Regions from separate parts of the Homo sapiens genome. Here region 1 is linked to region 2. The links come from fine-mapping of genetic effects on gene expression. A gene starts in region 2. The other region holds a variant in brackets. All regions are shown on one strand. Distances are from middle to middle.

Region 1 (5,516 bases), 52 kb before region 2:
TCGAGGGCTTTCTTCTGCATTTCTAGACTGTCATGCACAAGATCATGCAAACACCAAGTGCTCAATAAGGGCTGGTGGAGTTAAACCCAGGACTTCTGGTTTTCAGCCCTATTCTCTGTCCACAGCAGGTCCTACTCCTCACCCCCTCCTTCATGGCCTCCGGCTTCTTGGTAGGTGAGGCTGAGCAACTTTTTTAAAAGGCTGTTTCATAGTCCAGGCCAAAGGCTGAGCCGGGGAGATGCCAGGCATAGCTGCCACTGCCGAGGCTCCCTGCCTGTGACATGCCCTGACCGACTCTCAGGATAACCGGGATCCCGTGTTCAGAGTGCCTGGCCTGGCCCCTGGCCCACAGACCAAGACGTTGCTCCCTGTCACCTGGCAATGCAGAAAAAGATGGACTGATAAACTGTCCCCAGGGGAATGTGGTAACTGGTGATGGGCCTTCCCCTTCCCAAGAGATAATCTATCTACATTACAGCCAGGGGATGGCATGGAAGAGAAGGACGATCTGCCGGCTCCGTTGTAGTATCTCTGTTAGAGTAAAAGGAAGCCCATCTCTCAGTGCCCCAAATGTGAGAAAGGAGAAGTTGAAGTTCTTTATATTGCTGCTAATCATTTTGGGTATAAAAAAGGATAGTAAATCAACTTGCCCATAAAGAAATAGATACCAGGCCTCATGCACAGAGCTTACTTGGAGATAAATTCTTTGCACTGTCCACCCTGTGCTGTCCCCAAGGAGTGAGTGTGTGTGTGTGTGTGTGTGTGTGTGTGTGTATGTTGGAGTAACCATTTCCTCTTGGACTTTGGAAACAATTCAAGGGGCCTCACCAGCTGAGGGTCTAGAAACTAGAGCAGAAACTTTTTTTTTAAATTAAACTTAATGGTACTGAGGAAATCAATGGGTTTTTGTTTGAAAACATCCGTGATAACTGTCTCATGATGTTCTCCACCTCTCACTCCCTGCCTTGTAAAAAGAATCCAGTAGTTAATTTAGGACCCAGCAAGGAAAGAGGAGTCTTGCTGGGATCTGTGGCCAACAGTTCCCCTACAATGCCCTCTGTTCCCCCAGTTCACAAGGGAGGCCGCCTCATTCTAGGTGGTCATGTAGCATTCTGCATGACTGTCCAGCACACAGCTCTGCTCCATAGAAGTGACCCACACTCAATGGTGACAGCTAAACCAACCAGCTCCTCCCCTTGAAGGGTTTAAATGTGGGCTACATTGCACCACTAGTTGGTGGCAGAGGCAGAAGCCATAAGCGGAGGGAAGAGAGATGGAGAAGAGGTCAGAGAGGAATGTAAAGGGGATCACTGTAATTTTAAAAATAATGTTAGTGCACTGTTCTGCATTTACTAGGTGTAACCTTCCTGCTCTCCCCTAACTCACATCCATTTATTGGCCGGGTGTGGTGGCTCACGCCTGTAATCCCAGCACTTAGGGGGACCAAGGCGGGCAGATCACTTGAGGTCAGGAGTTTGAGACCAGCCTGACCAACGTGGCAAAACCCCATCTCTACTAAAAATACAAAAAATTAGCCAAGCGTGCTAGCGCGCACCTATAGTCCCAGCTACTCAGGAGGCTGAGGTACGAGAATCACTTAAACCAGGGAGGTGGAGGATGCAGTGAGCCAAGATAGCACCACTGCACTCCAGCCTGGATGACAGAGCAAGACTCTGTCTCCAAAAAAACACAAAAATTAAAAAATAAACAAATGACATCCATTATCCAGGGAGAGTTCGGACTGTTAAAGCAGGACTCAAAAAAATTCACATTCCAACATCCAAGATAGGATTCTGCAGCCACAAAATATCTTAAGAGCCAGAATTGTTGAGAGAGGACGTTTCTCAACTTCTGTCTCTCCGTGTTAGCAAATGAAGAGTCCTGTCTGGCTGACTCCATCACAACTCTACTGGACCGAGCTGAATGCGTTTTATCACTGCTACCTACCAGGTGGGGCTCCTGGATGACACCAGACAAGCTTCAGAGGAAACAAACTTGTATCTTCTTTGCACATCCAAGTTGTCAGGGCTGCCAGCTAAGACCATGAAGGCTGTACCCTGCACAGATGGGCCGTGTGGATGAATAGCGCCCAAGGAGTTATGCCACATGGGGGCCACGGGTGCAGGAGGCACTCACATCACCATCCCAGAGACCCCGCTGCAGCAGTCAAGATAACGGGAATCTGACTACCTTCTAGCTCCGAAATTCCAGGCATCTGAGAGGCCTGGGAGCCTGGGAGGCCTGGCTGCTAGTCACCCTCTAGCCCTGCCTCCCTCATTACTAAAGGTCAACAGAATCTGTTGCTAGCAACCAAGAGAGAGCCCACTCCAGCGATGCTGAGGGATGGCATGTGGCCCTCCCTGGTGGCCATCTGGGGCCATTCCAGCAGCCTATTTACACTGACTGCGAGGAGCACCTCCTCCTGGCAGCTCAGGAGGGGCTGTCTTTGTGCAGGTGTCAGCACCTTCTCTGGTGTAGCTACTGATGTCAAGAGGTAAACGAATTGGCCCCACGGGGTCTCTGACCATCCCATCCCCAGGGACCTACCCTCCCCTGAACACCTGCAGCATTTCCTGGCTGCCACCCTGCCCCCTGGC[A/C]CCTGGTGTGTACTTCAGGGTTGGTTGGTTCTCTTTACACGTGTTGAGATTAACTTCTCCCGGAGGCTGTAAGCTGGGCCCTGGTGTCAGCTCTGAGAGCTGGAATGCACAGGAAGTCTAAAGGTTGCCGACTTCCTGGCTGAGATTCTGGAAGAAGAGAGGACACTGTTCCAAAGTGGGCCAAACAGAGGATGGCTTCACAGACAGACACAGGTTTAAATCCTAGCGCCACCACTTACTAGGTATCTACTGGACAAGTTCATTAACTTTTTGGAGCTTGTGTTCTCATCTGTAAAATGTTACAAAATGTATAACAAGCCCTAGACAAGTTCATAAACTTTTTGGAGCTCGAGTTCTCATCTATAAAAATGGGGGCAACACTGCCTCCTTCTCAGGACAGTCTCCACCCTCTTGGTCTTCCTCACAATGCCCTATACATGGAGACCATCCATAACCCACTGACGGGCAAGTGGCTGGCCTTTGGGGGACATGGGGAGTCAAGCACCACTGCAGAACCCGGCCATCCAGGTGTTCCCTGGGAGCACTGGGACAAGCTCCTGGAGAAGGGAGGCAGGCAGATCTGCTGACTGGACTCGTACCTGCCATTCCCAGCACCCCCTACCCCCAACCGCCCTGCACCACCACGGGAACACCCCTCACCCTTGGGAGAGGGTCCAAGACCCAGTTCTGGCAAGTGAGACCTAGGAGGAAGTCCACTAGGGGGCTTCTGAGAAGGATTTTTGTCTCAGTAAGAGGAGAGAGACATAAGAAAAGTTCTTTCTTGGCATACTGGCACACACACGGCTTCCCGCCTTTGCTTCCATTTGAGGATGTAAATCCTGGCGCTCTGGCACCCATTTTGTGGCCAAGAGGTAACAAGCCTACAACCAAAAGGCCAAAATGATGAGAAGACAGACCACAAGGACAGAAGAGGCCTGGGTCCTTGATGGCACTGTGGAGCCACCGACCAAACCTAGGACCTCCTTCCTCCGCAACTCTTGTTTGAAAAACCATGAAAATCCTAGAGCTTGAGTCAGTCTTGGTTGGCTTTCTTTGTTACTCGCAGCCTAAAGCATTCCAACTGATGGAAATAAAGAAGAAAAGGAACAGGGTAGTAGATCTCTGAGTCTTTGAACACTGCCTGTGACCTGTCCCCATGAGGTCTTTCTGCCCCCACAGCAAAGAACTTTGCTATTTTAAGGAGGCCCAGAGACCACAGAGCCCCACCCAAGCCTAGCAGGCCTGCCCCTGCCAGGAACAAAAAAAAAACATTTCATTTCGAGGTTTTCTCTCATCCCTCAGCACCGTTCCTTGGGGTGTGCTGATGCGGCTGCCCGTGCCTGCCATGCAGTTGCCGGAAAAGTTGCACAGCTCAGGGGATGATAACAATGACCACTTGGGTCGAGGGAGCGATAGTCAAGTTCATGCTGCCCGTTGCACACGACCACCCCACACAGCATCCCCTGGGTCCAGCAACACTGCTGAGCCTTGAAAGGAGATTTTTTCCCTCTTTTTCTTTCTTTATTCAACTGAATGCTGTCATTGCTACAGAAGCCACGAGGAAGAGGGGTGGAGAGGAAAACGAGGTAATGGATGCAGAACATCTGGCACGGTGCCTGGTGGGCACTGAGCAAACACCAGCACCCTCCCTTTTCCCTTCCAACATAATGGCAATGCTGGGTGACAGAACATGGCATCAGGCAACTCCTCCAGGGCAGGGTGCCTCTGGCAGGGGCATTACCTATCCTTTTGGATTCCTGGTTTTTAAAGGACTCTTTCTACTGGGGTGCTTTTCCTTCAAGGTGTCCACTTAGACATAGTGCGTGTGTATGCACACAACACACACACACAGACACACACACACACACACATGCTGGTTAAGAGCCCAAGCTCCTGACTCCACAGCGAGTTGGGTCCCAGTCATGAGGTCAGGGTTCTCAATTAGCTTCTGCCTCAGCCTCGTCCAAGTCCTCCTGATCTGACCCCTACTGAGGCTGCTCGTGTCACTGACCCTCCTGCTGGTCCCCTGACCATTTCATAAGGACATTCAGAAGGCCTGGGAGCTGCTCAGTGCATAGCCTTTCCCTGCACATCGTTTCATCCCCAGCACCTGGGCTCTTTGTTTGGGCCCTCCTGGTTTCTGTGAAAGTCAAAGCTTTGGTTGCCTGAGTACCAAACCACTGGCATAGTCTGGCCTCTGTAAATCTGCCTCTGGGGATAAAGTCTCTCTCCTCACCTCTTCCACTGCGTCAGGACCACTCCAGTCCACAGGGCACGTTTGTGAGAATAGAGAAAGGCGCCTCTTCCTCCAACAGAATCAGCTCCAGGCTCAGTGAGTGGAATGTGGACTGGATTTCAGCCCCCACTTACACCCTGCCAGGTGCCTTTGTGCAGGGCACAACTCTGACAACCACACACAGCAGACCTGCAATGGAGCCTTTCCAATTATTCTCCTGAACTTCTGATCTAAATGCTTTTCTCAGACATTGACTCATTCAGAACTACTGCAGAATTTCCAATGTGGAGCAGCCCCACTGAGGGGGCAACAACTTTGCAAAACTGCAAGATACATTCGGCACTCCCCAGCATGATCCCATGGCTCCCCCAGCAGACCTTGCTGGTCTCACCTTCCTGGCTCTCCTCTGCTAACTCCAAATAAAGTTACAGCATCTCTGCTGTCCAATTACAATTCATTTCTCCCTGCCCCATCTGGAGGCAAATGGCACATGTGTCCCAGGAGACCCAGTGGTCCCTCCCTCCCACATTCTCATCCTGCCCTTTCCCCAGCTTGCCTTATCTTCCACATCACATGGGAAACTGAGGGCATCCCTCTCAGCAGAAAGCCTCTTGTACCCAGCAATGCTTAGCCTCAGGGAATGAATGGAGAGGCTGGGTGAGTCCATGTAGACTCCGGAGGAG
Region 2 (5,000 bases):
GGTCACACAGCCTGTTGGTGGCTAATTTAGGACTAGGGGCCAGGCCTTCAGACTTCCAGAGCATGGTGGCTTTCCCTATGGTACTGGAAGAGCTACTACCAGCGGGCTTGTAGACAGCAAAGCAGTCCCCAGTGCCTTTCCTGCATCCCTCTTGCTCTCTGTTCCCCACAAGAACACGCTGGTCTGTGAAGGGCCAGCAAGGGGAGAGAAGATAGGGTTAAGGTGGGGATTTTATTTAATCCCCTGAGCTTGCTTAAGCCAAAGCCACATTGGTTAGAGCAGGAGGTGAGCGACATGGAGGGTTTGTTGGGGGCTGGGTATGGGGGTGGAGGAGTGTTGAATAGTTACTGGATACCAAGAAGCTAGGCCTGCCAGTGGGCTTAACAGGTAAGCACCCACTTTCATGGACTCCCTGTCCCATCCCTGCTTCAAGGTTCAGGTCTCCAAGCAGTGCTCCTCTACCATGGAAGTCCCCCAGTAGCCAGGATGCCCAACGATGCAGAGCAGTGCAAAGATCACTGGCCATAGATTGAGACAGACTTGAGGGCAAACCCCAGCTCTGCCACATACATGCTGTGTGACCTCAGGCAAGTCATTTCACCTCTCTGAGCCTCAGTTCCTTCCACTGTTAAAGAGAACTGAACACACCTTCCTTGCAGGCCTCCAGGGAAGGAAGGCTGCATGAGCTCGCGCACAAAAAGAGACACAGGGGAGGCGCTGAGTTAATCCTCAGCGCTATTATTAAAACCTCACACCCTTTCTCTCTCTAGCCGGGCCCATCCATTACTCCTCTGTCCCAGCCTGCTTGCATCTTTGACATTAATAACCTTAATATCCCTCCCAGCTGAATAGCATTTGCATCATTTCAAAACCCTAAGCATCTTACCCCAGGTGGGCCACAACAGCCCTGCCAGAAGTAGCCAGAGCTGAGGAAGCCCCTGCACCCTCAAGTTCATCTTCTCACAATGCTCCCAAGTCCCAGAACCAGGGCCAATGGCAAAGTTTGGAGTTGGGCCCAAGAATCCGCACAAACATTCAGTCTTGGGGCAGACCTCAGGAGGGCAAGGGTAGGCCCTGGCTTACCAGAAGGAGCCAAAACCACCCCACCTCCATCACTTGCACCCCAACCCTCCATCTGGCCCCACTGCTCTGACCCTCCATCTGACCCCACTCTGGGCTGCCGGTCCCACTTTGGCCTCCAGCTCCCCAATTCTGGGACCCAGCTGGGCAGCTGGAAAGGGTGGAGTCTGGCCCTTGAATGGACGGCCAAGCCCGAGGCCACCGCCAGACTGTGAGCTCAGTACCCAGACAGATCTCTCTGAAGAGTGTGGGTTCACACCCTTGATGTTATTGGTTCTTTAACAGCCTGTCACAACCCAGGACCCATATTATCACCCTCACAGCACACAAGAAGAAACTGAGGCCCAAAGTGGACCCCTCCCCGACCAAGGTCATCCAGGGGATCTGGGATAGAGCTGGGATTGAACTCAGGTCTCCCTGGTCCCTTGACCCTGGCACTTTCCACTGCCCCATCATCTTTCCTCTTAACTCTTTCCTCCCTACAACTAGGAAGCCCCTGAAGTCTCTCCAATAAACGTGGGCCCCTATGACAAGGCCCAACAATCATCCTCCAATATGGGGGCTGCCAAGATGCCCACCTTTGCTTCCCCTGTCACATTCCCTCCCCACATCTTCAAGCCAACCACCTGGACCTGCCCTGTCTCTGGTAGCGGCTCCCGGGACTGGGCAGCGCCTTCTGCACAGAGTGGCTTTGGAGTGGAGCCAGCGCTCCCGGCATGGGCGGCAGAGGCTGGCAGGTGGGGTGGGGTTTCCCCTCCGCTGGCCTCCTCGGGGCGGCAGGCCCATCCCCACACCCACTGCTCAGCACCAGCCCCTGCCAGCGACGCTTCCCGCCGCGCACTCCCTGGAGGGACACCGCTAGCCGCCCAGCCCAGCTCTCCAGGGGTTAAAAATGCAGCATCCCAAACAAGGGTTAAAAATGCAGTCCCGGGGTTGGGCCGGGCGCGGAGGGATGTTGGCCAAACCGCCGGGGCTGCCAGAGCGGCATCCTCCCCCTGGCCTCCGCAGTCCTTGGGGGCCGGAGTGACTCGAGCGGATCCGGCAGCAAGAGAGGCGCGCGCCGCACCTTCCCGGCACCGGCGCCCCCTCCCCACACCCACACCCCCGCGCCCCCCGCAGCCTAGCCCGGGGGATGCAGGCGCCGGCGGGTCCCGGGCGCGGCGGGCGAGCGGCGCTTACCTTTGTGACAGTCATGCAGAAACTCCGCGGCGGAGCGGGGGCGCGGGCGCGGCGTGCGGGGGCGGCGGCGGCGGCCCGGGGCGGCGGCGGAAGGGGGTCCGGCAGCTCCCGGCTCGCTCCCCGCGCCCCGCCGGCGGCTCGGCCGAGCCTGGGGGCTGCGCTCCGGGCGGGCAGCGCGCAGGGACCGCTCGTCGGCGCTCGCCCGCCGCTCGTCGCTGATGTCAGCCCCGAATGTGCATTTATAATAGATGAGCCTCCTTCGCCGCAGGAAGGCGAGGCAGGAAGAAAGGGAGAGAGGGAGAGGGCCCGGGCTGGGGGGCGGGGGGAGGAAGAGGGGCCGGGAACTCGCTACAAAGGAGGAGGCGGAGGGAGGAGGAGGAGGAAGCGCAGCCCGCCAGCGGCCGTGCCCCGAGCCTCCCGCTCGATCGCCGGCCGCCGGGCACCGCTGCTCCCGGAGTCCGGACGGGCGCCCGGGTCCGCGGCCTTAACCCCTTCGGGCCTGCGGACGCCACGCGGCTGGGCGAGGCTGGCTCCCGGCACCTGCCGGCTGGGAGAACGGGCGGCGCCCCGGGCTCTCGGGTGTCCCGCTGGCCCGGGGACGCTGGTGAAGTCACAGGCTGGACGGCCGAGGCGCTGCGCGGGCAAAGAAGGCGGTCGGGTTCGCCCCCTGGAGGCTCGCAAAGTCGGCCCGTGGGCCGTGAGTGTGGCGCGGCGGGCTGGGAGGGGCGTGGCAGCCGCAAGCCCGGGAGCCCTGCCCGCACCCCCACCTCGCGCTGGCCCGGGGCACAGGGTGGCCAGACGGATTTGTGTAAGCACTCTTTCGAATCTAATTCCCGCCGCGATGACTTGCCCGAAGGCCGCCTTAGTGAGTTTTGCAGAGGAGGAAACTGACGATCAGAGTGGGACGGACGTGGGAAGTGACTTAGACCACAGCACAGGACCTGCCTGCCCGAGCCGTTCCTCCCGCTCTTTCCACTCGGCCGCTAGCTCCCTAAGGAACCTCTTGTTATAGAAGCTGCCCTGCCCTAGGACTGTCTACACTACCACTGAGTGCCGCTCTACTGGTGGAGTGATAACACAGGTGCGTCCTGTGTGTTGATCCAATCCTGACTCGGGGCACAGTGTGTCCTGGAGCTGCTGCGGAGATTTGAGGGACAGTCACCTGAAGGTGACCTCGCAAGTCTTGAGAAAGGAGTCTCCCTCCCAAGCACCTGAGCAGAACCGGTTTCCGCAGATACAGAACCGCGGAGAGGGTGGAGGGGAGGAGTTAGCAGAGGTGGAAGCAGAGGGGTTCTCCAAGCAGGACAGCCTGGCAAGCCCGGAAGTGCTGGCTTCCTGCTCCACGGTAATTACCGGTGCAATTCACCTGGACAGCGAAGGCAACGTCATATATGAGCACCTGCTCTGTGGAAAGTGCTGGGGGAACAGAGAGGAGATGGGATGCCTGCCTTCCGGGAGACCAGTGTCTAGATTGGAGCAATAATAATAGAGTAACCAGCCTCCAGGAAGTGCTTTGTGGGTCATTGTGCAATTTTTTTTTTTTTTTTTTTTTTGAGACCGGAGTAGTCTCACTCTGTCGCCCAGGCTGGAGTGCAGTGGCGCGATCTCGGCTCACTGCAACCTCCGCCTCCTGGATTCAAGCGATTCTTCTGCCTCAGCCCCCCGAGGATCTGGGACTACAGGAACGCGCTACCACGCCCGGCTAATTTTTTATTTTTATTAGAGACGGGGTTTCACCGTATTGGCCAGGCTGGTCTCGAACTCCTGACCTCGTGATCCACCCGCCTCGGCCTCCCAAAGTGCTGGGATTACAGACATGAGCAACCGCCCCCGGCCCTGCCATTTTTAACCACATTTTCTTGGGAGTCCTAAATGCAACAGTGTGAGGAAAGAATTACCGTCCCCATTTTGCTGATGAGTAAACGGATTTAGAGAAGGGAAGGGAATTGCCCAAGAGCACACAGTGACAGAGCGAGGACTTGAATGAAAGTCTTCTTAAATCAAGCTCAGCATTGTGCTTTGAATCCGTGAACTGCAGGGTCCATTCCTACTTGCTGCCTTATTTGAGTTTCACAGGTGTCTTAGGACATAGGTAGGCAGCTATTCGTTCCCCAGGGGAGTTCCAGGGACTTACTAAATCTCTTGGGTAGCAGATGTGCTGCAGACCTCAGGCGTCTCCTCTGTGCAAAACCCTTCCTAAGGCATCTTCCCACGTTGCTTGCCTGCCAGGAATGCTCTCTTATTCTTCTGCACTAACTCAAACGCATCCCACCTCTCACGGCACCACCTCCTTGCCACCTCTCCTGACAACTCCAGCCCAATGGCTCTCCCTGTTGCATTTAGTTCTGAGGGTCTGGTCTCATTTTCATGAGCCTCTGAGCACAGAGGCATGCCTTCTCTCACTGTGTACCCCTGGGCACATAGTAGGAGCTTAGCAAATATTTAATGCCACCAAGAACAAATCAAGCAAAATATACCTTTAACCTGCAGCAGAGGAAATTTAAATTAGGCCCATGAAAGCATTTCCCACCAGCGAGCTGTCCAGCATTGGAAGAGTCAGATTCCCTGTCTCAGCTGTCTTGGGCAGGTCAGCCTCTAGCCAGAAGGATGGAGCTCAAGACCTTTCCAGGGCCCTTCCAGCCCTAGGACCCCATCGGAAACCTTTAAAGGGCAACTCAAGGACACCAGTCACCCTGCACCCATGGCTGTGACTTGTCTGTCCACTTTTATATCTTACAGAG

What was found. PIP is the estimated chance that this variant, and not a neighbour inherited with it, causes the effect.
Region 1: its variant is fine-mapped to the expression of CORO2B in whole blood (TOPMed, PIP above 0.99). The same link has a PIP of 0.9 or more in blood mononuclear cells.

Annotation. Positions count from the first base shown.
Region 1 is chr15:68,628,773-68,634,288 of GRCh38, reverse strand. The region is part of intron 1 of CORO2B (coronin 2B); the gene reads right to left. Among named protein-coding and RNA genes, the nearest start is that of CORO2B, 53 kb to the right of the region's middle. The variant A/C (reference allele first, on the strand shown) is at 2,598.
Region 2 is chr15:68,576,537-68,581,536 of GRCh38, reverse strand. CORO2B (coronin 2B) reads right to left here and starts at 2,544. Exons shown (of 12, transcript NM_006091.5): 1 at 2,260-2,544. The coding sequence starts at 2,274. RefSeq lists an enhancer at 1,489-2,356.